Regions from separate parts of the Homo sapiens genome. Here regions 2, 3, 4 and 5 are each linked to region 1. Evidence: fine-mapped expression QTL. A gene starts in region 1. Each other region holds a variant in brackets. All regions are shown on one strand. Distances are from middle to middle. Region 1 holds the start of FHIT (fragile histidine triad diadenosine triphosphatase). Region 2 overlaps FHIT (fragile histidine triad diadenosine triphosphatase). Region 3 overlaps PTPRG (protein tyrosine phosphatase receptor type G). Region 4 overlaps FHIT (fragile histidine triad diadenosine triphosphatase). Region 5 overlaps FHIT (fragile histidine triad diadenosine triphosphatase).

What was found. PIP is the estimated chance that this variant, and not a neighbour inherited with it, causes the effect.
Region 2: its variant is fine-mapped to the expression of FHIT in whole blood (TOPMed, PIP above 0.99).
Region 3: its variant is fine-mapped to the expression of FHIT in monocytes after LPS (Fairfax 2014, PIP 0.95).
Region 4: its variant is fine-mapped to the expression of FHIT in skeletal muscle (GTEx, PIP 0.93).
Region 5: its variant is fine-mapped to the expression of FHIT in whole blood (TOPMed, PIP above 0.99).

Annotation. Positions count from the first base shown.
Region 1 is chr3:61,248,419-61,253,418 of GRCh38, reverse strand. It overlaps FHIT (fragile histidine triad diadenosine triphosphatase), which reads left to right and starts at 1,967. Exons shown (of 10, transcript NM_002012.4): 1 at 1,967-2,118. It overlaps LOC124909387 (a long non-coding RNA gene), which reads right to left and starts at 1,827. Exons shown (of 2, transcript XR_007095939.1): 1 at 1,792-1,827. RefSeq lists enhancers at 1,870-2,164, 2,229-2,288, 2,419-2,548, 2,689-2,818, 3,099-3,378.
Region 2 is chr3:60,682,902-60,688,034 of GRCh38, reverse strand. The region is part of intron 4 of FHIT (fragile histidine triad diadenosine triphosphatase); the gene reads left to right. Among named protein-coding and RNA genes, the nearest start is that of MIR548BB, 68 kb to the right of the region's middle. The variant G/A (reference allele first, on the strand shown) is at 3,045.
Region 3 is chr3:61,830,565-61,835,697 of GRCh38, reverse strand. The region is part of intron 2 of PTPRG (protein tyrosine phosphatase receptor type G); the gene reads right to left. Among named protein-coding and RNA genes, the nearest start is that of PTPRG, 270 kb to the right of the region's middle. RefSeq lists an enhancer at 5,073-5,133. The variant A/CACACACACAA (reference allele first, on the strand shown) is at 2,631.
Region 4 is chr3:61,133,837-61,138,969 of GRCh38, reverse strand. The region is part of intron 2 of FHIT (fragile histidine triad diadenosine triphosphatase); the gene reads left to right. Among named protein-coding and RNA genes, the nearest start is that of FHIT, 120 kb to the left of the region's middle. The variant G/A (reference allele first, on the strand shown) is at 2,325.
Region 5 is chr3:60,381,551-60,386,683 of GRCh38, reverse strand. The region is part of intron 5 of FHIT (fragile histidine triad diadenosine triphosphatase); the gene reads left to right. Among named protein-coding and RNA genes, the nearest start is that of MIR548BB, 230 kb to the left of the region's middle. The variant A/G (reference allele first, on the strand shown) is at 2,365.

The DNA.
Region 1 (5,000 bases):
TGAATCCAATGCAAGTTCTATGTCTTCATGCTCTTTGTGAATGTATCTGTTGCTCAAGGTCGTGGGTGACCTTGAGCCCAGCAGTCAGCATTATCCACAGCTGAAGTAATACCTATGTGCTCATATTAGGCTATCTGACAACAGTGCAATAATCATTAGACACCACTGTTTAGACCCTGAGTATGTTCATGACATTTGCCTTTTGACTGCTAAGTAGAAGATGTAATGATTATAGGCTGATGCTTTCTCAGGAGGAGGAAAGTTATTGAGCTTTACAGTTTCAAATGCTTCTGATTTTCTTCCACGTTTAGTCTGGCTGCTGACACATGTGTTGAAATCTCTCATGTCGATCAGCTTGAGAATAGCTGGGACTGCTGAGCTAAGTCTGTGCTCATAAAAGCAACAAAGAATTGTATTACAGGAAATGACCCCAAATTGACAGAAGATTAGGCTAGGAAGCCTGAACAGGTGTTTTAATCTCTATGCACAAAATCAGTCTGTACATATATTGCTCACATTCCTGCTGTTTTAACTATATTTTTTTTTTCAATTTCACTTTGTTATTCACAATTTGATAATATTTTATGTGGCCATGGTGTCTGTGTGATGAACTATAATCCAATGTGACATTCTCTGAGAGTCAAGCTTCCAAGGACATCAGATTTTCACACCAGGACACTTTGTAGGACACCTTGCTACTCTCCATGGGATTCAAATATTAGAAATAATGAGAGATCTAAGACTTGATGTAATTGCCTGCATGTAATGAATCAGGCCAAATAAAAAAGTGAGAGACAGAGAAAGGAAATGGTGCTAAGGAAAATGGGGACCTATCTTAGTGTTTGTCTGAGAGAAAACTGCTCTTTGTTTTTCCCGATGTAATGGCAAGAGTCTGCAGCCAGGAATCTAGTCCTTGCTTAGGAGCTGCATGACCTTGTGAAAATTACGTAGGTGTTCTGCAATTTGTAATTGCATTTATTGTAAAATTAATTTTACTTTTCATACGTCACTAGACAGAGCATTTTGAGGTTAGGAATTGGGTCTGAATCAATGATTTCTCCAGCACCCACATGGCATTTGGCACAGAATACATCAATAATGATTTTGGATTAAACAGGGGAACAAGCACAAGGAACCATGGTGGTCAGAAACGGGTTGATCTGCACCAGAGAAAGGGAGACTAGGGGAGAAAGGTCACTCTAGATTTCGTTCAATTATTGAAAATACGGTGTATTTACTATGTGCTGGGCACTTTTCTAGGTGCTAGAAAGACTACAGTGACCAAAACAAAAATCCACATCTGCAGGGATCTTGCATTCTAGTGAGAAAGTAAGATGGTAAAAAAGATAAATACGTAAATTTTATACAATGCTTCGTAACGACAAATGCTAAGGAGAAAAACAGCACAGAAAAGACAGAAAGGAAAAGAGAAGGGGCGCATGTGGTGCAATTTTGTTAGGATGCCAGGGAGGGCTGAGCGTAGTCGTAAATGACCACATTATTTGATGGATCAAGCCAGGGACTGCAAGTCTGTGTTTCTGAGAGACACATAAAGAAAAGAAGGCTTAAGGAATCCAGAAAGATCCAGAGTGGGGAAATGAAACGAAAAGAAATCCAGCCAGTGGGAAGTCGTGAAGGGATAGTTAAACGCGTTTTGGGAGGAAAGAAAAAAGCAAAAGTGCGGTACAGCCTTTCGTTACACGTGAAAAGAATCATGTTTCTTTTTCTAGTTAGAAAAAGCCAAAGATTGTGCGATTTATGCCCCAAACCCCCTTGTAAGGGGATTCTCACCTCAACTTGTCTTCTGTGGTCAGTGTTTCCCGCCCCTGAATCAGGGTTACTGTCACTATGGCTTTCAATTGGCCCGGCGTAGGCGCATGCTCTGCGCGTATTGGCCTCCGCTCCTGTCCCCAGACAAGCGGCCATCTTGGGTCCCGCCCCTACCGTGGGGTCTTCTGGGAATTGCAGTCCCCGCTCTGCTCTGTCCGGTCACAGGACTTTTTGCCCTCTGTTCCCGGGTCCCTCAGGCGGCCACCCAGTGGGCACACTCCCAGGCGGCGCTCCGGCCCCGCGCTCCCTCCCTCTGCCTTTCATTCCCAGCTGTCAACATCCTGGAAGGTAGGGGCGGGGAGGCAAGCCCAAGTGGAATACTGTTTCTGGGGCGCGGGTCTGGGTTTCCACGCGCGTCAGGTCATCACCCCGGAGCCCAGTGGGGCCGGCGCCGCTCACGGGGCGGTGGGCTTCTGTCCCGAGTACTCTTCCGCCCCACGAGGGTCTCAGGGTGGGGACTCGGGCCCCCCAATTCCCAAGCACCGACCCTAGCCCTAACCCGTTCCTCCTCCACCGTGTTTATACATTGGGGAAACTGAGGCACGGGGCCACGCCAGCGGGTCCGGGGACGCCACAGCTCTTGGCTCTGGGGGTGTAGTCGGCACCCGCCGTTTTGGGATGGTTCGTCAGTTTCATAGACAAGTAGCGAAAATCCGTCCCAACAGGTCTGTGTTAAACACGCAGCTCTGGATTCCCCTAAGGGGTTGCTGAACACGTGCCCAGGACAGGAGCAAACCGGAGTATAGAGAAGGCAGCATTTTGGGAGATAATTTTACATTACTACTTCAAAAACAGGCAAAGAGGCATCGAATTTATTGTTGTGGGAGAACTCATCGGTACTTGGTCGGACTTTCTTACACTTATTTTATGGTTGTTGTTTTTATTTTTAGCGTCAAAGGGGGGAATTTTAAAGGTATATCCAAGTTGGTGGTGGTGGGGGGTAAGGAGGCAGGTTAGTGGAACTTGAGATGCATCTGCAGATTTCTCTGTAGGCTCACATTCTGCCCTCGCTGTGTTACCTTGGAACAGCCACTCACAGCGCTTATCTGGGAAACAAGGAGCTCAATGCTCCCAGGTCAAGTGGCCAAAGGATGTTGCCTGAAGCCGAAATCTAAATTGAGGTTATGCTTGTGAAAGTTTACCACTTGCAGATTTACTGCTATTATTATTCTGGTCTCTCAGAAATGTGCTGGGACCAATAGAAAATACTCACAGTGGTTGTTTTAGTAAGGTTCTGACCTGGGCCGGGCCCAGACTACCAAGGGTGGTCCCTACTCGCACCTGATGTTAAGCCGGATCTACCTGAACTCTCCCTCCTTGGCTTCAGCCTGCGGCCTGAGGCCTTGGCCGCGGAGGCTTCTGGGAGTTGCAGTCCCGCCTCTTGTTTCTCGTCGGGCAGGTACTCCACCTCGTGGCGTGCCATTTTGCACGGCGAGATGTCTCCTGGGAGACGAAGTCTCGCTTCTAGCCGTTCTGTAGAGCAGCCGCTTGACTCGGAACTACAACTCCCATGTGGACCTGCGTTCATGGCTGCCGGCCTGTGTCCACCTGCTGCAACCTGGACTAGAAATATTTAGTAAAGAAAGAAGTCTAGGGTTTGTGTGTGTGTGTGTGTGTGTGTGTGTGTGTGTGTGTGTGTGTGTGTGTGTGTGTGTTGTTATTGATTGCATATGCTGTTCTAAGTGTTAGATATGGGATTGTTGTATACGGTGTTCCAAGTATTAACGTACATGCTTCCAAAACCACTAACACTTGACCATTTAGAACCTGTTCACATGATCTCTTTTTAATACTACATTTCCCATTTGTATATGAGAAAAAACTTGAGAAGATAGCCCATGATTACACAGCTAGCAATATAATATATATTCAATAAAATATATGTGTTATAATTTAATCCTCTTAAAAGCTATATGAGAGTGAGAACCATTTTTATATCAACTTTACAGATTAGAAAACTAAGGCTAGGAAAGTTAAGTAACTTGTTCAAGTTAAAACACTGGTGAATAAAAGGACTGAGACTGTAAGCCCTTCTGCTTAACAGTCTCTGCTTAGAGAAAGACCTTACCTTACAGAGCTGAGGAGGAGTCCAACCTTTCTGGCTACAGAATTTGGAATCTTTTAATTATACCATGCTGCCTCTGTACTTAGATACTAAACATTTGAGCTGCAAAAACCTTTGAGATCATTTAATTCTAATGCAAAGATCTTGGAACACTTCTTGGCCTATAATAAAGATTCCATATATATATGTATATAGTTTTAGAATACCTTTATTTTAGAGATTAGGAAACTGGCCCAGGTGGTAAAGCAGTTTGCCCAAGGTCACACAGTTGGTTTGTGTCAGAGATTAGACTAGAACCAAGCATCTTATTTTCAAGTCCAGGGTTATTTTCATTCCACCAGCAGTCAGCTAGCAGGAACACCAGATGTGTAGCTCTTTAGATAATGGTTTCTCCTCTAATTTGCTCTTTCAAGGCCACAGACCAGGACCAATTGTTATAAATTATCTTATTTATTATTGGTAAGGTTGTAATACTTCATGAATTCAACAAATGTTTTTTGAGCTTCTTTATATGGTCATCTCTCTTAAGGTGCAAGGACCACATAGATGATAAGGACTTAATGCATTCAGACTGGAAGGACCTTATAAATAATCTAATCTAACTCTTATTTTATAAATGAGGAGAGTGTGTTACGAAGTAGTCTGCAATCTTCATCTCATGCCCTCATGTCAAAAGTATCCCGTTTCTGCAAGAAGGCAGGTTTCTGGAGTCCTCACAGTAGTGTGGATAACCTTTTTAGGCTTATGCTTTTCTATTTGGTATCCTTGTCTTGGCCTTTTTCCTGCAGCCTTTGATAGAATGCTTTAGGAAATGTTTTTGTGTCCCCATCTTTATTTGTGTGTTTATGCAACTTCAACATGCTCTGTTTCTATTTTGGAAGTTAGTCTGGTTTTGGCTCCCATTACTCTTTTCTCTTTTGTTCTTTCAGACACTTGAGAACAAATTCTGACACTATGTTTGCATTCACATGTTAAAATCTGACCCTCTAATATGAACTCTCAGAAATCTATCAAGTTGTGACTTTCATTTTGGAAGACATATTGGCCCTTTCAATTATGTATTCACAGATAATAAGGCAGGTAACTCTGGTCTCTTCTGAAAGAT
Region 2 (5,133 bases), 570 kb after region 1:
ATTAAAAAAGAAAGAACAATAGAATGGACAAGATTTATTAGGCAGAAGCGAAATTAAAAAAAAAAGTAATCTTGGCAATATTTAGATGAAATAGAATCAAAGGCTATAAAAATATTAAATGCAATCAAGAAGGTTATATTTTCTTTAAGATAGACTTCACAATGAAGATAAGGCAGTTCTGAATTTTTATTGACTTGGTAACAGCCTCAAAATACATGAAACAAAGGCTGTTAGAAATATAAGGAAAAATTGATGGAAGTAGAATTGTTGTATGACACTTTAATACACTTTTATTGATCTTTCATGGGTCAAATAAACACAGAATTGATAGAATATTTTAATAATCTAACAAAGATGATTTAATAAATATTTATTAAATTTTGTTCTCTAGAAATAAGCAATACACTTTTTTAAGGAGCCATGAAGCATTTAGAAAAAAATTGATCATATATTATATCTCAAAGAAACCATATTAAATTATGAAATATAAAGTGTTAACAGCCTCCATGTTCTGCCTACACTGAAATAGAGCTAGACATTAATAGCAAAAGTTTAAATGCAAAAATCAGTAGCTTGGAAAAGAGAAATAATGATAACAAAAACCAAATTTTTTTCTAAAAACTCCAGATTCAAACAGGAAAGGAAACTATATAATAAACTGTTAGGAGAGTAAGAACTCTATGTATCAATATTTTAAATGGCTAAAGCTGTATTTAGCAGAAAATTAATAGCCCTGAGAACTTTCATTATTAAAGGAGAGTAACAAAATCAATCTGTGGAAAATAAAACTAATGAATTAATAAATAGAGACTCCTTTTTTTTCTGTTAAATAAGACCAACAAGCAAATAATATTTATTTAATGAGCTAGAAATAGGAGGAGCTTACGCAGCATAATACAAGATATTTACTGGAAACCTGTAGCAAGGTATGTTATTTAACGTTAACATTGTAAATATTACTTTCACTGCCACAAATGAGATGAGTGCTTGTGATTTTTGTAAAAGTTAAATCCCAAAGAACAATTTCTGCTTCCCATGTAGTCTGTAAACCCTCACAAAACACAAACAGCAGCAACAACAAAACTCTCTGAGGGATCTGAAGAATGAACAAAGGCAGCAAGATTCTCGAAGGGGGTTGAAGACACCTGGAAGTAGTATAGGTTAAATTTCTTATGACTATTATCCTGAGGTCAAGCCACAGGTAGGGCCACACAGAGTGGCTGAAACTCCTGTAGGAAGCTCAGTCTTTCTGGCCTTATGAACCAGGGGACAGAGTTTGGAGCAACCCCAGCTACTGGAAAGTAAGGGAGGAATGTCATTAAAAAGAGGGCCAGAAAAGGAGCATTACAAATTTTTGGTGTAAATTCTGCTCAAATCTCTGGCTGACCTTTGGAATATACATACACAGGCAGACCAAAGCAGTCAGTGAATTTGATAATATCAATATAGATTTTCTCTATGAAGAACAGAGATTGTATTTTTAAAAAGGATTAAAAAAAAAGCAACCAGAGCCTCAGGTTCCTATGGGATAATTCTTTTAACATATGAGTAATTGGTTCCCCAGAAGGAAAGGTGATAGAGAATGGGTCATAAAAATATTAGGTTGGTGCAAAAGTAATCGTGGTTTTGCAATTACTTTTCATTACAAAACCCACAATTACTTTTGTGCCAACCTAATATTTGAAGAAACAGTGGCCCCACACACTTCCCAAAATTGGTGAGAGATAAATGTACACGTTCAAGATGCTGAGGCACATTGTAATCAAACTGCTGAAAACCCAAGACACTATCTTGAAAATAGCCGGAGAAAAACAACACACTATATACATGAAACTGCACTGCTAAATACTGCCAACCTACCTTCAAAAACTATGAAAGCAAGAAGACAATGAAACAATATCTTCAATGTGCTGTAAGGAGATATGACTATCCAATCCCGAAGTCCATATCCAAAGATACTCATACTTCAGGAACGGAGTCAAAATAAAGTTGCATTCAGAAAAACAAAAACAGAATATTTATTGCCAGCAGACCAACTTACACTGTAAAAAATGCTTTGTTCTTTGGGATGACAAGAAAAAATAGATGAAAACTCAGATCCTTATGTAAAAATAAAGAAATCATAAATAGTAAGATAAATATAAAAATCAATTTTTTCCTCCTAATGTTTTAAGAATATGTATGTTTGTTTAAGTAAAAACTATAGCATCATTTTTATGGGATTTATAATACAGGTAGATGTAATTTCAATGACAACTTGAATTTAGAGGGAGTTTGTAAATAGATTCATACATGTGTGAGGTTTCCATATTGTATGTAAATAGTATAATAGTAATTCTAGGTAGACTGTAAAAAGAGAGGTTGGATTGAATTCCTGGTAATATGTGTTTAAATGGAATGAATACTCGTTCTTAGAATGAAGAGAAGTGTGCAGAATGGAACTTTGCAAGCCCTTACTGGCCCATATGTCACGGGGTGGAGATGTCACCATTTTCTATATGGCTCCAGATCAAGCAATCTCTTGACAAAAAGCAAGCTGGCTTCGAGTAACCTTCAAACGGAGTGTACCAGGCCAATGCAGAAGACATAACATGGTTTGCTTTCTTTCTCCCGTCCATTTTAGTATCTTAAGTACCAGCAGATAGAAGGTCCAGAAAAAAGAAAGAGGATGACATTGTAGGGGAGGCCAAATTTTCTCTCTTAGGGTTTTTTAGCTGGGCCTGAGGATTGAATTGACATAAGGCAGATCAGCGGGAGAAAAGCATACAAATTTAATTCATTCAATTTTTATGTGAGCACAAGAGCCCTCTTAAGGAAATGAAACCCAAAGACAGAGTTGAAAGTTGAACACCTATGTACTGAATTGGGAAAGGAATAGAAAATTGTGAGTATGTGACAAAGCCAACGGGCTTGGGCTAGGGAGGTTAATTGGGTAGAGAAGTAACTAGGAAGATAAGGGTTACTTTAATAAGGTGTGTTTGTTCAGATTTCTCTCAGCATCAACTTCTCGTCTTTGATGATAAGAACGCTACTTTCCCTCTGGC[G/A]TAGGGAGGACAAGTTATCTCCTGTTTCTAAGGAAAAGAAGAAAGCTCAGAGTATATTTTTTGTATCTGCTGTTTTTCCAAGTGTCTTTAAGCTCAAAATAGTCAATATACTAGAGCAACATATTTTGGAGTATTGTGTTCTGAACTCCTTCAATCTTTAGCATTTCTCTTCTGTCATTCTTCAGGCTCTTGAGCACTTTTGAGAAACTAATATGAATGGGAAAGATGTAATATTTACTCCCAGGAAGGTTGCTTTGGTGATCTAGTCTGTGAACTAGACTCAGGAAACTGTCTGGGTATTGGAAAGGAAGTCACGGATGCGCAATGGAATTTGTAAAGGGGTGGCACAGCTCTTGAATACTCTCCTTGGAAGAGACCCTGGCACGGAGAGAACAGAGTATTAACCTCACTCTGAGGTTGGGAAGACTAAGGGAATCTGAGGTGTGAGGAGGGATGGAGACGACAGGTCACACAATGTGATGGAAAACCGCACATGGAGTGGAAAGAACATGAACTCTGGAGTCTGGAACTCCTATATCTGGACTTGACACCGTATTCTGCTATGTGGCCTTCGGTGAGTGTGCCAAGTTGAATATTGGCTCTGCAAACGTATCCACATCAAATTTCTAGAGCTTGTGAATGTGACCTTGTTTGCAAAAAAAATGGTCCTTGCAGATATGATTAAATTGAGGATCTTGAGATGAGGAAATCATCCTGGATTATTTTGGGAGACCTAAATGCTATTACAAGAGTCCCACCAACCACCAGAAGCTGAAAGTGGCAAGGAATGGAATCCCTCCTAGAGCCTCTGGAGGGATCTTTGCTCTTAAACATCTTAATTTTGGGCTTCTGGCTTCCAGAGCTGTGAGAGCCACAAAGTTTGTGGTTATTTTTTATTGCAGCCACAGTGAAGAAGATAATAAAGCCAGCTACTGACCTCTCTGAATCTCAGTGCCCTCATCTGTAAGATAGAATCAGCTAGCTACTTTATAGCATTTTTCCAGGATTAAATGAGACATGTAAAATAGAAAACAAACAAACAAGCAAACAAAGAAAAGATAAGGAACATGCTGAGAAAAAAATATAGACACCCCTTGTTTGATGTTACTAATTGATTCCTGATGATCAGATGTATTACCCAAAAATGATTTCCTTGAGACAGTTTGCCATTACTTAAATGGGAAAAAATGTGTTATATGTCAAACCAACCCTCTAGTGAATTTCTTGAAGTGTAAGTAAAACACAGTAAAATAACCATAGTAGAACAATAATGTCACACTGAGACTTAAAATGCAGGCATATCTATATCTCAGAGATACTGCATGTTCACTTCCAGACCATCACAATAAAGTGAATATTGCAATAAAACAAGGCACACAAACTTTTTTGTTTCCCAGTGAATATAAAAGTTGTGTTTACAGTCTATAGTAGTCTAGTATGCAATAGCATTATAAAAAAATATGTTATCTTAATTTAAAAATTTTTTTTGCTAAAAATACTGGTGATCATTTGAGCCTTCAGTAAGTCATAATCTTTCTGCTGGTGGAGGGTCTTGCCTTGATATTTATGGCTGCCGACTGATCAGACTGGTGGTTGTTGAGGGCAGAAGTGGCTGTGGCAATTTGTTAAAGTAAGAAAACAGTAAAGTTTTCAACATCAGTGGCTTCTTGCTTTCACGAATGACTTCTCTGTTGCATACAGCACTGTTTGCCAGCATTTTACCCACAATAAAACTCCTTTCAAAATGAGTGAATCCTCTCCAACCCTTCTTTATCAACTAAGTTTATGTAATATTCTAAAGCTTTTGTTGTCATTTCAACGATGTTCATAACATCTTCTTCAGGAGTAGATTTTACCTCAAGAAATCCTTTTCTTTGCTTACCCGTAAGAAGCAACTCCTCACTCATTCAAGTTTTATTGTAAAATTACAGTAATTCAGTCACATCTTCAAGCTTTACTTCTGATTCTAGTTGTCGCTATTTCTTCCACATCTTCAGCTCCTTCCTCCACTGAAGTCTTGAACCCCTCAAAGTCATCCATGAGAGTTGGAATCAACTTCTCCCAAACACCTTTTCATGTTAATATTTTG
Region 3 (5,133 bases), 580 kb before region 1:
ACCACTGATGTGACACTTCAGACTACCAACAAGGCCAGGCCATTAAGGACTTAAATAGCAGGAACGGGCTGGGCGTGGTGGTTCATGCCTATAATCCCAGCACTTTGGGAGGCTGAGGTGGCTGGATCACAAGGTCAAGAGTTCGAGCCCAGCCTGGCCAACATGGTGAAATCCCATCTCTACTAGGAATACAAAAATTAGCCAGGTGTGGTGGCGTGTGCCTGTAATCCCAGCTACTCAGGAGGCTGAGGCAGGAGAATCGCTTGAATCCAGGAGGCAGAGGTTGCAGTGAGCTGAGATCGCACCACTGCACTCCAGCCTGGGGAAGGGGGGAGTAGGAATGACATGATCCCACTGAATAGGAAATTGACTTCCACATTTACAAAGGAGGCTGGAGCAGGAGAAAGTAACAGTAGAGTCAGGAAGGGCTGACCAGAGGCTAATGGAATAACCTAAGCCCTTTTCTCTCAAGAGAATATTGAGGTAATTGAGGCACAGTAACGACCAAAGGAAGGCAGCCTGCCTCTGCCACAATGAGACACCTGGAAACTACCAAACTGGACAGCATAATTCTCAATACAAGTATAAATAATCCTTCCATGAACCTGACATTTATGATGCTGAATCTTAGGTATATTTGGACTTTATTTCTATATCTAGCTGAATTTCAGATAGAAAACACAGCCAAAAGGATTGTAATTATTAAACACAACCAAAATCAAAACCCAAGCTTTCACTAGCTTGGGTGGGCAATCTAGATGAAATATAATTCAATTGTCTAATTTCTGAGAGCTGGATTCCCAATATGTTTGCCTTAGGAAACTTCCAGGATGAGAAAAAATTGGCAGCTCACATCAGAACCAAAATGTTCATGTTTTTTTCTTTTTGAGATGGAGTCTCACTCCAGCCCAGGCTGGAGTGCAGTGGCACGATCTCAGCTCACTGCAAACTCCACCTCCTGGGTTAAAGCAATTCTCCTGCCTCAGCTTCCTGAGTAGTTGGGACTACAGGCACACGCCACCATGCCCAGCTAATTTTTGTATTTTTAGTAGAGACAGTGTTTCACCATGTTGGCCAGGATGGTCTCGATCTCCTGACCTCCTGATCCACCTGCCTCGGCCTCCCAAAGTGTTGGGATTACAGGCATGAGCCACCGTGGCAAGCCTTATGTTTTTAAGAAAAAGGATCTCACTAGGCTAGTCTTGAACTCCTGGGCTCAAGCGATCCTCCCACCTCAGCCTCCTGAGCAGCTAGGACTACAGGTACATGCCACTGTACCTGGCTAGAAGCACATTTTTAAATCAATTAAGCTCAACAGCAAACAAAGTTTTGAACTGTAAACTGACCCCCTGCCAGGGTAGTATCTTTGAGAAAAAAACACTCTTAAGGCCATAAAATAATTTATATGAAAAAACTTGACAATATAAATATTCCAGATGATTCTGAGACCAATTTTTATCAAAGCTCCATCTAACAGTTGCAACCACAAGAGACTTTTTGTGAAGAAATGACTCAGGAGAGGCAACATGTCAAAGAAAGAAGAAAAGATGCTGTAACAAACATCCTTCCAAGGCAAATGTGTTCTTTGACAAATAACCTAAAAGAGTAATATATAAGCAATCCGTTATGTTTACTTCCCAAGAAAAGCATCTTCTGAAATCCTAAGCTGACCTCCATGTTATTAATCATTTTAAGTTACTGTGCTGTGACTAATTGAAGCCAATAAAGTAGATGAGAAATAAGGAAGACCCATAACTTTGTGGATGAGAATACCTAACATTTACACAGAGCTCTCCTTTCAAAGATGAGCTTCCATAGAAAACACTTCAACACGGCTGGGCGCGGTGGCTCACGCCTGTAATCCTAGCGCTTTGGGAGGCCGAGGCGGGCACACTGCCTTAGCTCAGGAGTTCGAAACCAGCCTGGCCAACATGCTGAAACCCCGTCTCTACTAAAAATACAAAAAAAGTAGCCAGGCGTGGTGGCGGGTACCTGTAGTTCCAGCTACTCAGGAGGCTGAGGCACGAGAATTGCTTGAACCCAGGTGGCGGAGGTTGCAGCGAGCCGAGATCACACCACTGCACTCCAGCCTGGGCGACAGAGTGAGACTTGTCTCCAAAAAAAGAAAAAGAAAAGAAAGGAAAACACTTTGCCGGAATGAGGAAAGCAAGTGAAGTGCCTGGGGATAAAGGATTCACCAGGGCATTGGCACACACGCTCACTACATCCTCGCAGGGACTCTCGCTTAGGTCTGGAATTGTCACAAACACCACCCCAAGCGCAAGATCTGACATTCTGAAATAAACTAGATTAAGCCAGTAAAAGCCCTAGAGATTTCTTCTGCACGTTTTTAAGCAGATTTGCTATATCAAGCACATGCACACTGGATTTTGACAGATGTAGCAAATTGCCCTGCAAAATTGGGGGCATTATAGTGAAAGTCCTATAGTATATATTTAGGGTCATATGTAGAATTCAATTTATAACTTTCAGTCAGGAGACTCTACCTGCACCTCAGGCTAACTCTACTCCACCCTTCAAATAAAAAGAAGGAGAACGAGGTAATGCTCATAAATCAACACGTGGATAAAGAAACTGTGTACACACACACACACACACACACACACACA[A/CACACACACAA]TGGAATACTACTCAGACATAAAAAGGGATGAACTAATGGCATTCACAGCAACCTGGATGGAATGGGATACTATTATTCTAAGTGATATAACTCAGGAATGGAAAACCAAACATCATATGTTTTCACTCATAAGTGGGAGCCAAGCTACGAGAATGCAAAGACATAGGAATGATAACGCTGGACTTTGGGGACTCAGCGGGGAAAGGGTGGGAAGAGGACGAGGGATAAAAAGCTACATATTGGGTTCAGTGTATACTGCTCAAGTGATGGATGCAGCAAAATCTGATGAATCACCACTAAAGAACTTACTCATGTAACCAAATACCCTGTTCCCCAAAAACCTACTGAAATACAAACTAGAAATAAATATTTTTTTTAAAAAAGTAAGTAAAAACCAAAGATCAGAGCAGCATATTCTGCATCTCAGTTTTCTCAGCTATAAAATGAAGATAATGATACCTACCCTACAAGATCCACTGGGGGAAGAGGGTGAGATAATGTCAGATAAGGACCTGATACCCTGAAGGCTGTACACACAGCACTTAACAGAGCTAGTTCCAAAGCCAGAAAGCCTGGGTTCAAGTCCAGGTCAGTTTCTTCCCAGTTGTATGACCCTGCCCCAGATGCTTACCCACTCTCTATGCTCCAAAACTCTGTTCTGAAGATGATCACAGTACCTATCTCATAGGGTTATGAGAATTAAATGACTTAGTCCAGGGAAGGGGTTTTGAGCATATAATAATGTTTTTAAAAAGAGATAGTTATTATTTTAGGCACCAAATTCAATATTCTAACTCCATTTCCAAATCCAATAATTTTGAAAGTGGAGCTTCTATCTCCATGTCACAACGAAAAGCACAGCTGTGGGGAGAATGTGCCCATTACAGCTAAATGGAAATGTGAATTCATTTGCATGGAATTGTGCATGCAAAGCACCCCCTTCTTGTTAGGCTGAACAACATGATTACACTTATTTTGGCAGATATAATTTTTTGATTGACTCTTTCTGGGATATTTATAAGATACAAATGTATAAATCCATGTATAAATGAAATCATCTAGAAACATTTTTAAAATATTACATTATTTTTAGAAAAACAAACCACCTAGAATAGTTATAGACAAGATGTTGTTTATTCTCTTTTAAGTAATTTTTAAATCTTCTCATCTGAACCAATTAGAAAACTTTTACCACCCATCAATATCTATCCTATGTGTGTGTTTATCTATATACAGTTTGAACCAGCAATTCTTATGAAAAACTATTTCCTTTTTGCAATGGAGAAAAAGGCACAAAAATATCATTTACCCATAAGACAGAAAACTCAAAAAGCACCCAAAATTTGGTATACCTTTTTCTCTATTTCCATGGTCATTGGCATTTTCCTAACTCATCCATTCCTGAAATTCCTAAGTCATCAATGTGAGAAACAATTGTAGATAGAATAACTGAATTAACAAAGTAAGAAGATACCAGATGGATGCTGTCCTCAACAGAATGAATGAATGGTGGCTTGAGTCTGCTTTAACTTTAAGCTGGGTTGAACATCAAGCAAGAGAAGTAACATGAGGTTAAAAAAAACAAAAACAAAAACAAAAAAACAGGTGTCACCTGCAATTTTTAAAATGGAACAAAAGGTCCTTCCTGTGTGTGGTATATTTATAAGTAAAAATTATCCCAATGATTTTATGCAAGTCAAATGACAAAATTATTCACTCAACTGCTTCCTTTCTTAACTGCTTATTCCTTCTCTTCACCATAAATGGGTATTATGCTCTTTCACAAAAGTTGTGAGACAGATGTTTACACACATATTTCTATATTTCAGTGAAAAATTCTGCAACAGCAGCTAGGAGTATCCTGGGTTATGCCTGAATAATGCCTCCATGAAAATAGGAAAGATACTCATCAGTATCAGTATCTTTTTATCAGTGAGATTAAATAGATGGATCACTAAAGGAATATATTTTGCAGCTAAATGTCCATCACTGACCCGATATTCCTCAAAAACTTGAGAATATCAGACAGTACAAGCTAAGGCTTCAAAGGCTGAACCCAGATGTCTGTTATTTAAACATTCTCATTAGGTCTTTGAAAAAAGAAAGGAAGCCACCAAGTAAAAACAAAGCACAAATTTCACTACAGCTCCACAAATTTTGATGCATTTATACCTCCCGATAAAGAGATCCATCGGCAGGGCGCAGTGGCCCATGCCTGTGATCCCAGCACTTTGGAAGGCCGAGGCAGGTGGATCACCTGAGGTCGGGAGTTCGAGACCAGCCTGACCAACATGGAGAATCCCCATCTCTACTAAAAACGCAAAATTAGCCAGGTGTGGTGGCGCGTGCCTGTAATCCCAGCTACTCGGGAGGCTGAGGCAGGAGAATCACTTGAACCTGAGAGGTGGAGGTTGCAGTGAACCGAGATCACGGCATTGCACTCCAGCATGGGCAACAAGAGCGAAACTCCATCTCCAAAAAAAAAAAAAAAAAAAAAAAACA
Region 4 (5,133 bases), 110 kb after region 1:
TTCTTCTTTATTTTTTTATTATTTAAAGATGCAGGACCTTCAGCTGATTTCATTTGGTTGGAAATTCTAGAGCAGCAGCATAACATTTTGAAGTCAAATGGTTAATTTTCTTTGGAGGCCTTTCCTCCTTTGGTTATTGGATGCTGTGTCTATGTTCTTTACACTCTGGCAGTGAGGAGGAAGCCCTTGTGTGACAATGGATTTAGTGGGGTATAAATCTACCTAACTAGCAGTTGGATGGGATCTGATGAGGGTTGGCCCCAGAGCCAAGCCACATTAGCCGAGTTAGAAGGATGTGCTGATTTCAACTTCAAGCCACGGGGCCCAGCAGAGAACTGCTGGGAAGCAATAGCATGGCCTGTTGTGCCACCGTCATTTTTGTCAGCGCCACCATCATCACCATTAAGCCTTTATTAAGTGCCAGTGTGTGGAGCTCCCTTAGGTGTCATTGCAGTCTGACAGGCAGCTGTGTGTTTTAAATACGAGCCTTGCTCAGGGCCATGAGGTGAAAAGGCCCAGCTGTAATCCTAGGCAGGCCCACAAGCATGGCTGCATGGTTAGTTAGTGGCTGTAGCAGGTTTTTGTTTCTGGTGTCTGCTCAGCCCATGGCCCCTTTCTCTAAGAACTGTCACTTTATCTTCAAGGATGGGCCCTGGTGATCAGGTTTTTAACTTGGCTCCCAGGCTGTGGCTCAGTAGATCAAAGATCCACAGCTGACTCAAGCTGGACCAGCCAGGTTGTCTTTCTCAGAAGTGTGGTCTTGGACTAAGACATATTTGTAGATAGACTAGGTAGATGTGTAAACTTGGGAGCAGTGGGAAGCCATGTCTTAGATTAATTCAATAATCCTTGTAATACTCCTATGAGGTGGGACCTCTTCTTATTCCCATTTTGTAGAAGAGGAAACTGAGTCACAGAGCGGTTAAGTAATTTATCCAAGGTCATATAGTTGGTTAATGGCAGAGCCAGGCATGAACACAGGTAGTATGAGCTCATACTTGTAGCCACTGTATAACTGTCTTTCGGAGCAAGAGAGAGGGAGAAAGAAAGAGAGAGGAATACAACAGGCCTCTGGAGATATGCAGATTAAAAGACTGTGTGAGGCTGCAGGGAGAGAGGTGGGTATGGGGAGAGAGTAAGACTGATTGACTAAGAGAGTAGCTGCCTTGATTCTGTAGGCTTTCTAGCTCCAGGATCCAGACCTCAGTGTCTGCACTTTCTAACCTTGGGCTCTGAGAAGTATCTCTATGTCCTTATAAATAAATTTCCCTTTTGTGCTCAAAGCAGTTTCAATGGATGTCTGTTACTTGCAACCAAAAGAGTCTTGACTAAGTGACCACACTGTCACAGTTTGGTAAAAAAGACAGTGGGTCATCCACTGGCCTTTGTAGCCCCAGGTATCTTTACATTATCTGTAGGTAGCATCCAGGCTAGTAGAGGAGAAAGGCAAGTACACCAGTGATTGCAGCATAGTGAGACAGGGCTCTGAAAGAGGTAAGCGCATAAGTTGCTATAGAAACTTAGAGACGTGGCCAAAAATTGAGACTGGGATAGGGTGTGGGGAATCAGGTCAGCTTCTCAGAGGGGAAATATTTGAGTTGTGTTTTGAAGAATGGGTAGGATTTAGCCATATGAAGAAGGGACGGAAACAAGGGCATTACAAATAGTGAGAAGAGTGTGTACCAAAAAAAAAAAAAAAAAAAAAAAGAGTGAAACCTATGATACGTTTTAGAAAAGGCAAACTATTCAGTGTGATGGGGAAGAAGGAAGGAGCAGGGATATGATATAAAACTGGAGTTCTTGGGGACTGTGCCACAAAGAGTCTGCAGTGCTAAGCAATGGAGTTTGAACCTTTGCCTGTAAGCTATCAGTTCATTGAGTATCCAGTTCCTTCCCTCCCTCCAACATGGAAGCATCTCTAGATTCTGAAATTACAAAGATTATATTCTGACAACATTAAATGCAGTTTTAGAAACAACAACAATACATGCAGAATCCTAACACCTGACACCAGTGTTTTCATTTTTGCCACCTTATCTTCTAGTTGTCCTCAAACACACCTGTTTTTGCACATGGTTGCAATCCATTGACATATCATTTTCACTTTCCAGTAGATTAAAAAGGTTTTCCATGTTTCTATGTTGTCCTCTCCTAATTATTATAACAGCATGATAGTCCTTCATTCGACAGAAGGTTTTCCTGAGTACCAACACTGCTCCAGGCAATGTGTTAGGCTCCGGTGAAGCAAAAGTGAATGACTTGGACACTCCTGCCTTTGAGGAACTCAGGATCTGGTATCCCAGTCTCTGCTGAAGCACTTAGCC[G/A]TACGTATTTTAAGCATGTGGTTTTAATATTGTCATTTTATTTAAAAAGATATTCAGTTCTTTGAGGGTCAATTTCAAATCCTTTTCTTGTATAGTCACTGTCCTCCTACCTCCAACCCCCATTGTAAGTACTCTGTGACTAAAACATAGCCACATTTTCCTCTGATTCTGTGTTCATGCACTACTTACCTAGTTTTTTGCATATCTTATGCTTCAAGCACCCCGAAAGCTGTTTGATGACTAACCATAAACAGGTTCCAAATCAAGTTTTTGAGCCAAGTTAATTTGATTATGAAACATTATCTTGGTTGTGGCAAATGCCCAGTGGTCATTATTTTAATGATACAAGCCTCTACAGCCTAAACTAATTACAAACCAGCTTTATTCTGGGAGTGGCGGGTGGGTCGGGTGAGGGGGGTGGGGGCGTGGTGACGGTGGTGGTGGTGGCATTGCCTAACCAGCCTCCCTGAGGCTAATCCAAGTGTCTGGGGATATGGGATATGATCACTCTCTGCTTTTCCTTCACCTGGTCCTCCGTGGATGTTGTCTACCTCATTCCCTCTCCCTCCTTGTTCTTGTGTTAAAGAAAATAGCGATGGTTGGCCAAAATTCTCCTTAAATTAAATTTTGCCTCCTACCTCCAGCATGATCATGAGCCTCCAAATTAAAGATGCAGACAAGTTTTCAATCAGATTTGCCTTTTGTTCTGTATTTAGATGCTTTTAGTTTTTCCCTTTATGATGCTTTTTTTGACTTCAACTAGCTCTGTGCTTTTGGTGGTATTTTGTAGCTGGTTTTTGCTCAGTTTTCTATATCTAAACATCTTTATTTTCTGTATTTCTAGTCCACGTATTTGATGAAAACACATTGATCAATTGGTATAAATTTTTTAAAATTTAAATAAATGTATTCATTAAAGAGTCTAGAAGTGCTTCATTATCCATGTAATGAAGAAATAGACAGGGAAGATAAATAAACTAAATTCTCTAGTAAAACCAGAAATTCCTCATATCTGATTTTACTGTGTGTATGTGTGTGTGTGTGTATGTGTGTGTGTGTGTGTTCGAACACAAGGATGCAAGTGTGGGTTATTGACATACACTTAAAATGAAATAGGTTGTTACCTCATAGATCTTAAAAGCTTTAAAAACTCTCTAAGCCTCAGTTCCTTCCTTTATAAAATGGGAACAACAATACTAATGAGTATATACAGTTGCAGGGATGATTTATTTGATGATGACTATAAAGTGCCTGGCACATAGTAAGTGCTCAATAAATATCAGTGGTTAATATGCCCTTGACCTAGAGGAGTACAACGCCTTCTCTATGATCTTAACTTTGAGCTATTAGTAAGTCCCTAAGTTCATATTTTTATGCAGAGGCCAAAAATCATTGAAAGAAAGCTTAGACCTTAGAAAACTTCCCAAGCCACTTTCTCTTAGCATTCTTTTTTTTTCTCCTTAACTAGCCTGGGCTGAATGATTAGCCATTTCCACCTAGTTCTCACCAACACTACCTTTGTGGCAGATGCCCCTGTGGCCATTTTCACAGTCCCTCTGTGAAATTATCTCTGATTTCAGCAACAACTGTGGTGACCAGTTTTGTCCAAGTCAGCTTCCCACCTCTAGCCCCTACTTTTCTGCTTTTCTGCTTTCTTCCCCAAGGGCATCTCTTATGCTGGGAGTCTGCATGGCCTGGGCTGAAGAGGAGCCTGGACGTCTGTGGGAATAAATGCCCTCAGAGGCTACTCTCAGCCACTGGGCATTTGAACATGTGAATAAGTGCTCCGGCCTTTGCGATTCAGGTGAACAGTTCTGGAGGCAAGCTGTGTACTTCTCTGGAGGTTCTGGCCAAACCAGCCTCTTGCTGGTTTGGCAAGTGGTAAACTTGATAATGTACCCTTAGTTGGCTTTTGCTCTTCCCTTTTTACACCCTATTTCCTCATCTCTGCTTCCTGGAGTCATCTCTCACATAAACTCCTGCACCTAAGTCCTTGTCTCAGGTTTTGCCTTCAGGGCAACCCAACTCATGACAACCCTAAAATTTTCTGTCTTCTTGATACTTCTAGGACTCTGCCCATATAATCTTTAGCCCCAGATCATTTCTCCTTCCTTTGAAGAGATGTCTCATAGCTTTTTGAAGTCAGACTCTTTTTCTTTGATCTTGATCCTATCTGCTCTTAAATCCTGTGGGCCCACAGACCATTATATCCTGTTTACTGCTATACTTCCAATATAGAATGCTTGGACCATAGTAGAAGCTCAACAAATACTTATTGAATGAATAATTATTTTCTTGCATGTTTTTTAGTTTCCTTCTGTGCACACCTGCTGTTTTCATCACTGTTTTCAGCTTTTCTTTGGGAGTTTGGGATCTCTTGCTTTAGAAATAGACACTGCCTGAATCCCAGTGCCCACCACTTTCTGAGGCTTATGAGCCAACCCCCTACCCTTGGTAATATTGGGCCCCACTAAGCACTTTCTCTTTCTTGAGCTCTACCTCCCTTGACCTCTTTGTGTGTGTGTGTGTGTGTGTGTGTGTGTGTATGTGTGTGTGTGAGACAGAGTCTCACTCTGTCGCCCAGGCTGGAGTGCAGTGGCGCGATCTCAGCTCACTGCAACCTCCGCCTCCCGAGTTCAAAGCAATTCTCCTGCCTCAGCCTCCTGAGTAGCTGGGATTACAGGTGCCTGCCACCACGCCTGGCTAAATTTTTGTACTTTTAGTAGAGATGGGGTTTCACCGTGTTAGCTAGGCTGGTCTTGAACTCCTGACCTCAGTTAATCCACCTATCTCGGCCTCCCAAAGTGCT
Region 5 (5,133 bases), 870 kb after region 1:
GACCCATGTGTGCTATGATTATAGTAGTGTATACAACAGAAGAAATTGTTTAGAGAAGAGGCAAGAAGTGGAGTGTGAGGTCATGCCAGCATGAAGAAAGATTGCTGTTTACCAGAAGATGCTCAAACCTTGTCCTCTGGGTATATATGAGAGCAGTCAGGGTAGTCAGCGGTTTCTATTGAAACAATGACAAGAGTACAGGAAGAGGAACAAGTGGATGGTGCAATAACCATGGATGTTTTTATAGATATTGTGAGGTGAAGCTGCACTTCGATAGTCATTGCCTTGTCATTATTGTTGAATTGTTTCATGTTGTTCTAAGTCCTTGAATCCCTCAAATGTGCTGCCGGAAAGGTAATTCCTCAAAAAATGTGCAGCTCACAGATGGTGGTTGCGGCTCATAGGATCTCTGGCTTAAGACCCTCGCTGTACAGTGGTAGTCAGTGGGTGGGAGGAGGGGTGACAAGAAGGCAGGGAAGGAGAGAGTCTTCCAGAGGCAGAAGAGACCAGTGAGTAGCGTCTATGGAACCACACTGCCGGGGCTCAAATCTTGAAATCTTGGTTCTGCCACATGGTTGCTCTGCAGCTCTGGCCAAGTTACTTACTTGCCTTATGCTTCAATTTCCTCTAATGTAACCCATGGATCAGTTACCCTGGGTATGGCACTCAGAAGCACCTGCTACATAGTCAGCTCTAAAGAGTTCGTTATTTCTATTATTTCACCTAGGAAAGATATTCCCAACTTTTGACATCGATTCCCCAGGGTAGGGTTAATCTCTTAGAGTAATACTCTAAAATCTTATATGGACCAGGCACAGTGGCTCACATATGTCATTCCAGCATTTGGGGAGGCTGAGGCAGGAGGATCCATTGAGTTCAGGAGTTCAAGACCAGTCTAGGCAATGTAGTAAGACACCATCTCTACCAGAAAAAAAAATTCACTGGGTATGGCGGTGCATGCCTTTATTCCCAGCTACTCAGGTAGATGAGGCAGGAGGATCCTTTGAGCCTGGGAGATCAAGGCTGCAGTAGGCCATGATCGTGCAACTGCACTCTAGACTGGATGACAAAGTGAGATCCTGTTTCAGTTACAAAAATTGTATTATATAAATATTTAACTCAGAATTATAGTATACATACTCTAAGGATAACTAACTTATATAAAATGATTTATAAGATTGTTCAAAGTTGCTATTTCCTTTTTCTTAATTATTTTATTCAGCACCTTTATGTCTAGTTTGTAGTAATAAGTACTATAAAACTAAGTTTTCACAAAGGCTGCTTTTGATTTCCTGCACCTGATGTATATTTGTACACTTAACAGTTGTATACACAAAGCCATGTATACTGCATTTTGTGGGTGATTTAAGGCATTTTTAAAAGTTATTGAGTACTTGAGAGCTTAATCCACAGTGGATGCTTCTCCACCATAGCCCATTAGCTGGTGGTCATAACATTTACTGCTGCCTTGTATTTTTTAATCTGCTGGAATAGACATTATTATTTCCATTGCATCTTAAGTTGTTGAATCAAGTAGAATTCAGAGTGGGACACCAGGAATGGGAGAGGTTATGGTTATATAGCAAATGCTATATTGTATGCATTTTTTTCCTCTTAATTGTTTAACAAAAGTCTGTTGTGTTAGCAACGTATCTCTTCATTTTTCCTTGCCATAATATATTTTTTCTGCTTAGAAGGCCATGCCTATTACTGTGCAGTTAGAACAAAATGAACATATTTTAAAACTGTATAGAGCGAAAGAAAGGGAAGGCATTGAACGTAAATTTAGACTTCTCACAATAGGTTTTTATATAAATGATTTCTGAGATTTTTTTTTTTTTTTTTTTACTAATGTGAAAATACCTCCTAGCTCTGTTCATCTCTCACATAGTGTTTCTGATAAAGTTTTGTAGTGTATCTGTTGAAGAGATACTATGATTCAAAGTGCTGGGTTTTTGTTGTTGTTGTTGTTGTTTTAAGATTTTGTAATGATTTTCTGTAGTGATTCACAATGGGGTTGGCCCTTGGCAGTTTTTATGTGAGTGAAAGCCTGCCTTATCCTTGCACGTTTTGTTTATGTCCATGACTGACCAGTTTCGTGGTAATAAAGCGACAAAGCAAGAATGACTAATAAACTATCAGGGGTTAACTACTGTGCTTGCTTTTCCTTTCCTGGAGTGTGTGTGAGAGAAAGAAAAACATACGACTCTCTCCTCGCATGGGGCTAAAGATACCAAACCTTTAAAGTGTATAACTGGATTATCTCAAAGGCAAAGAACATCATTAATAATTAGGCTGCCACTTAATTCTACTTTATATCATCATCTCTGTTGTGAAACTTAAGATATTATGGAAGTTATTATT[A/G]GATTAGTAATAGTCTCTATTAAAAATTATCTCCAATTTTTTTTTTTTTTTTTAAGACGGAGTCTTGGTCTGTCACCAGGCTGGAGTGCAGTGGTGTGATCTCAGCTCACCACAACCTTTGCCTCCCGGGTTCAAGTGATTCCCCTGCCTCAGCCTCCCAAGTAGCTGGGATTATAGGCACGCAGCACCACACTCGTCTAATTTTTTGTATTTTAGTAGCGACGGGGTTTCACCATGATGGCCAAGATGGTCTTGATCTCCTGACCTCGTGATCCACCCACCTCGGCCTCCCAAAGTGCTGGGATTACAGGCATGGGCCACCTGCGCCTGTCCTATCTCCAAAAATTTAAGCTGATTTTTGACATAAACATTTTCCAGAAGTGATTTAGCACTGTAAAGATGGTCATGTTTTTGCTTTTTTGCAATTAATATGTCTTTTTTGACAGTGAGAACTTGACCCAACAGTATTTAAAGGTTGATGATGGGTTAAAAATTTTGCTGTTGTTTAGAGAGACAGGATGAATAAGGATGAAACAAATAACAAAATAGCCTCTGTTGAAAAATGCTATTTTTATAGTAGATGTACCTCCTAACTCTCTAAATGGTCACATGGACTTGGTTAAGCTTGACATCTGTGAAAGACAAAATGATTTTTTTTTTTCAGTAGCTCATGTCCATAGAAGTCCTGGAATAATCATTTAAATGATAGTGATCATATGTAGCTTTAGGGCATGGTTTTTTCACCTTGGCGTTGTTGACATTTTGGGTGGGATAATTCTTTGTTGCAGGAAGTTTTCCAGTGCATTGAAGTATATTTAGCAGAATCCCTGTTCTGTACCCACTAGATGCCAGTAGCACTCTCACCTCCAATTATGAGAACCAAAAATATCAGTAGACATTGCCAAATATTTCTGGGTGGGGGTTGGGGGAGCAAAATTGACCCTTGGTTAATAACCCCTAGCGATTTGGAAATACCTAATTAAAGTTTCCAGTGATTTTAAAAAATATTGTTATTATCGTAATCATAAGTGGCAAATTATTAAGGCCATTATAAAATGAGATCTCACCCAGTGGTCACAGATGAAATAAACCAGCTTATTTTGACCTCATTACAGCTTTAGGAAGTCACTGGCAAGTAAGCGCAAAAGAAACTCCCATTCCCTACATATTTTTCTATCGGTAAACATTTCTGTCGCTCTGTTTTCAATGCCAATTCATTTTAGTAATGTAACTCAGATGGTTTAGAGTTACAGTAGATAATGGCTAATCTGCCTACTAAGTAGAGTTTGTTTTTTCCTAGTGAATGAAAATGCAAAAGTATTAATACAGATGCTTGTGTGCTGCTGAATTTGATTTGACAAGCTAGTCGTGACATTACCAAGAGGTCTGTGGAAGGTAAAGGTGTTGAAGCATGAAGTGGAAGCAGTGTTTGGGGAAAAAGATTGCTAATGATAGAGGTCTGATTTCTCGTTCTCTATGTAATTCCAAATGCATGCTGTGCTTGTCATTTAGAAATTCAGACTAGACCAGATGCTGCATTTGATATGTTGTATACAGTTCTTTTTAGTTAATGAAAGCCCTATTGGAGTCACAGTATCCAAAAAACAATTCCTAAGTGGGGGTAAAAAAACCTCTGATTAGATTATTGGGTTCTATCAGGGAATAATATGGACTCAAGAATGGAGCTTTATCAGTGGCATAGTTGTTTACTTGACAAGAATCAACAGTGATTTTCAGAGTATCAGGTTCACATGTAGGTAAAATGGACATTTAAAAAAATTATCGGTGTTACTTGTATTACCAATTCATACAAGTTTTCTGGTTTAATGAATAAGAAGATGAATTGTCTCAGATTAGACCCAGATTGTGATTACGGATCGTATTCAGGACTTTATTTAACTCTGTATGCCTGAAGAAAAACACTTCGCTCATGGCTTATTTTGAAATGGCACGTGGAAAGACACGTGTAATTTATGAGATGTGGCACTCTTGTTGCATTTTTAGTATTTTGTAGTTTTATACTGCTGCTAATGCAAGTTCTTATGAGCCATGTTTGGTGTATGTGGGCACCACTCCGCAATTCTATGTCCGCAAGAGATGTCTATTCCAAACACTGTACTTTTTTTCTACTCCAGGATGCCAATTAAAATTAAGTAGGTGTACATGTGAGGCACAATCCATTGGCTGGTCTTGATTTAAACCCTGGTCAAGGTGGTAAGTTAGAAAATGTTACTCTAGGCTAGCCACTGTCCAATGGAACCATATTTGTGCTAGTATAGTAGCTATTAAGCCATATGTGGCTACTGAACACTTGAAATGTGGCTAAGGAATGGAATTTTTAATTTATTTAATTTTAATGTAAATACCTACTTGTAGTTACCACCTACCATATTGGACAGCACAGCACTAGGCCTTTGAGACACATTTTCTGAGACACATGTTTGGATTTGGGATTGTTTACTGTGGGTGTTCTGAACACGCCATACCCAGAGTTACAGAGTTACAGAGCCATTATCATCACACTATTAAGCCTCTAGTCTATCCATGTAGAGGATAGGAGAAAAAAAACAAAAAAGGAAAGAAAGAGTAATGATTGTATATACCAGTTGATACTAGAAAGTTAAAGTAGGAAAGCCTGATTTACAGAAGCTTAATATCAAACATAGTCATCTCTACTATCGAAAGAGAGATTGGCAGTCAATGCAGATATATACTTTTAAATATGTTCTCTTTCCTGTTCTTTGAAATATTATCTGAGCAATAGAACAG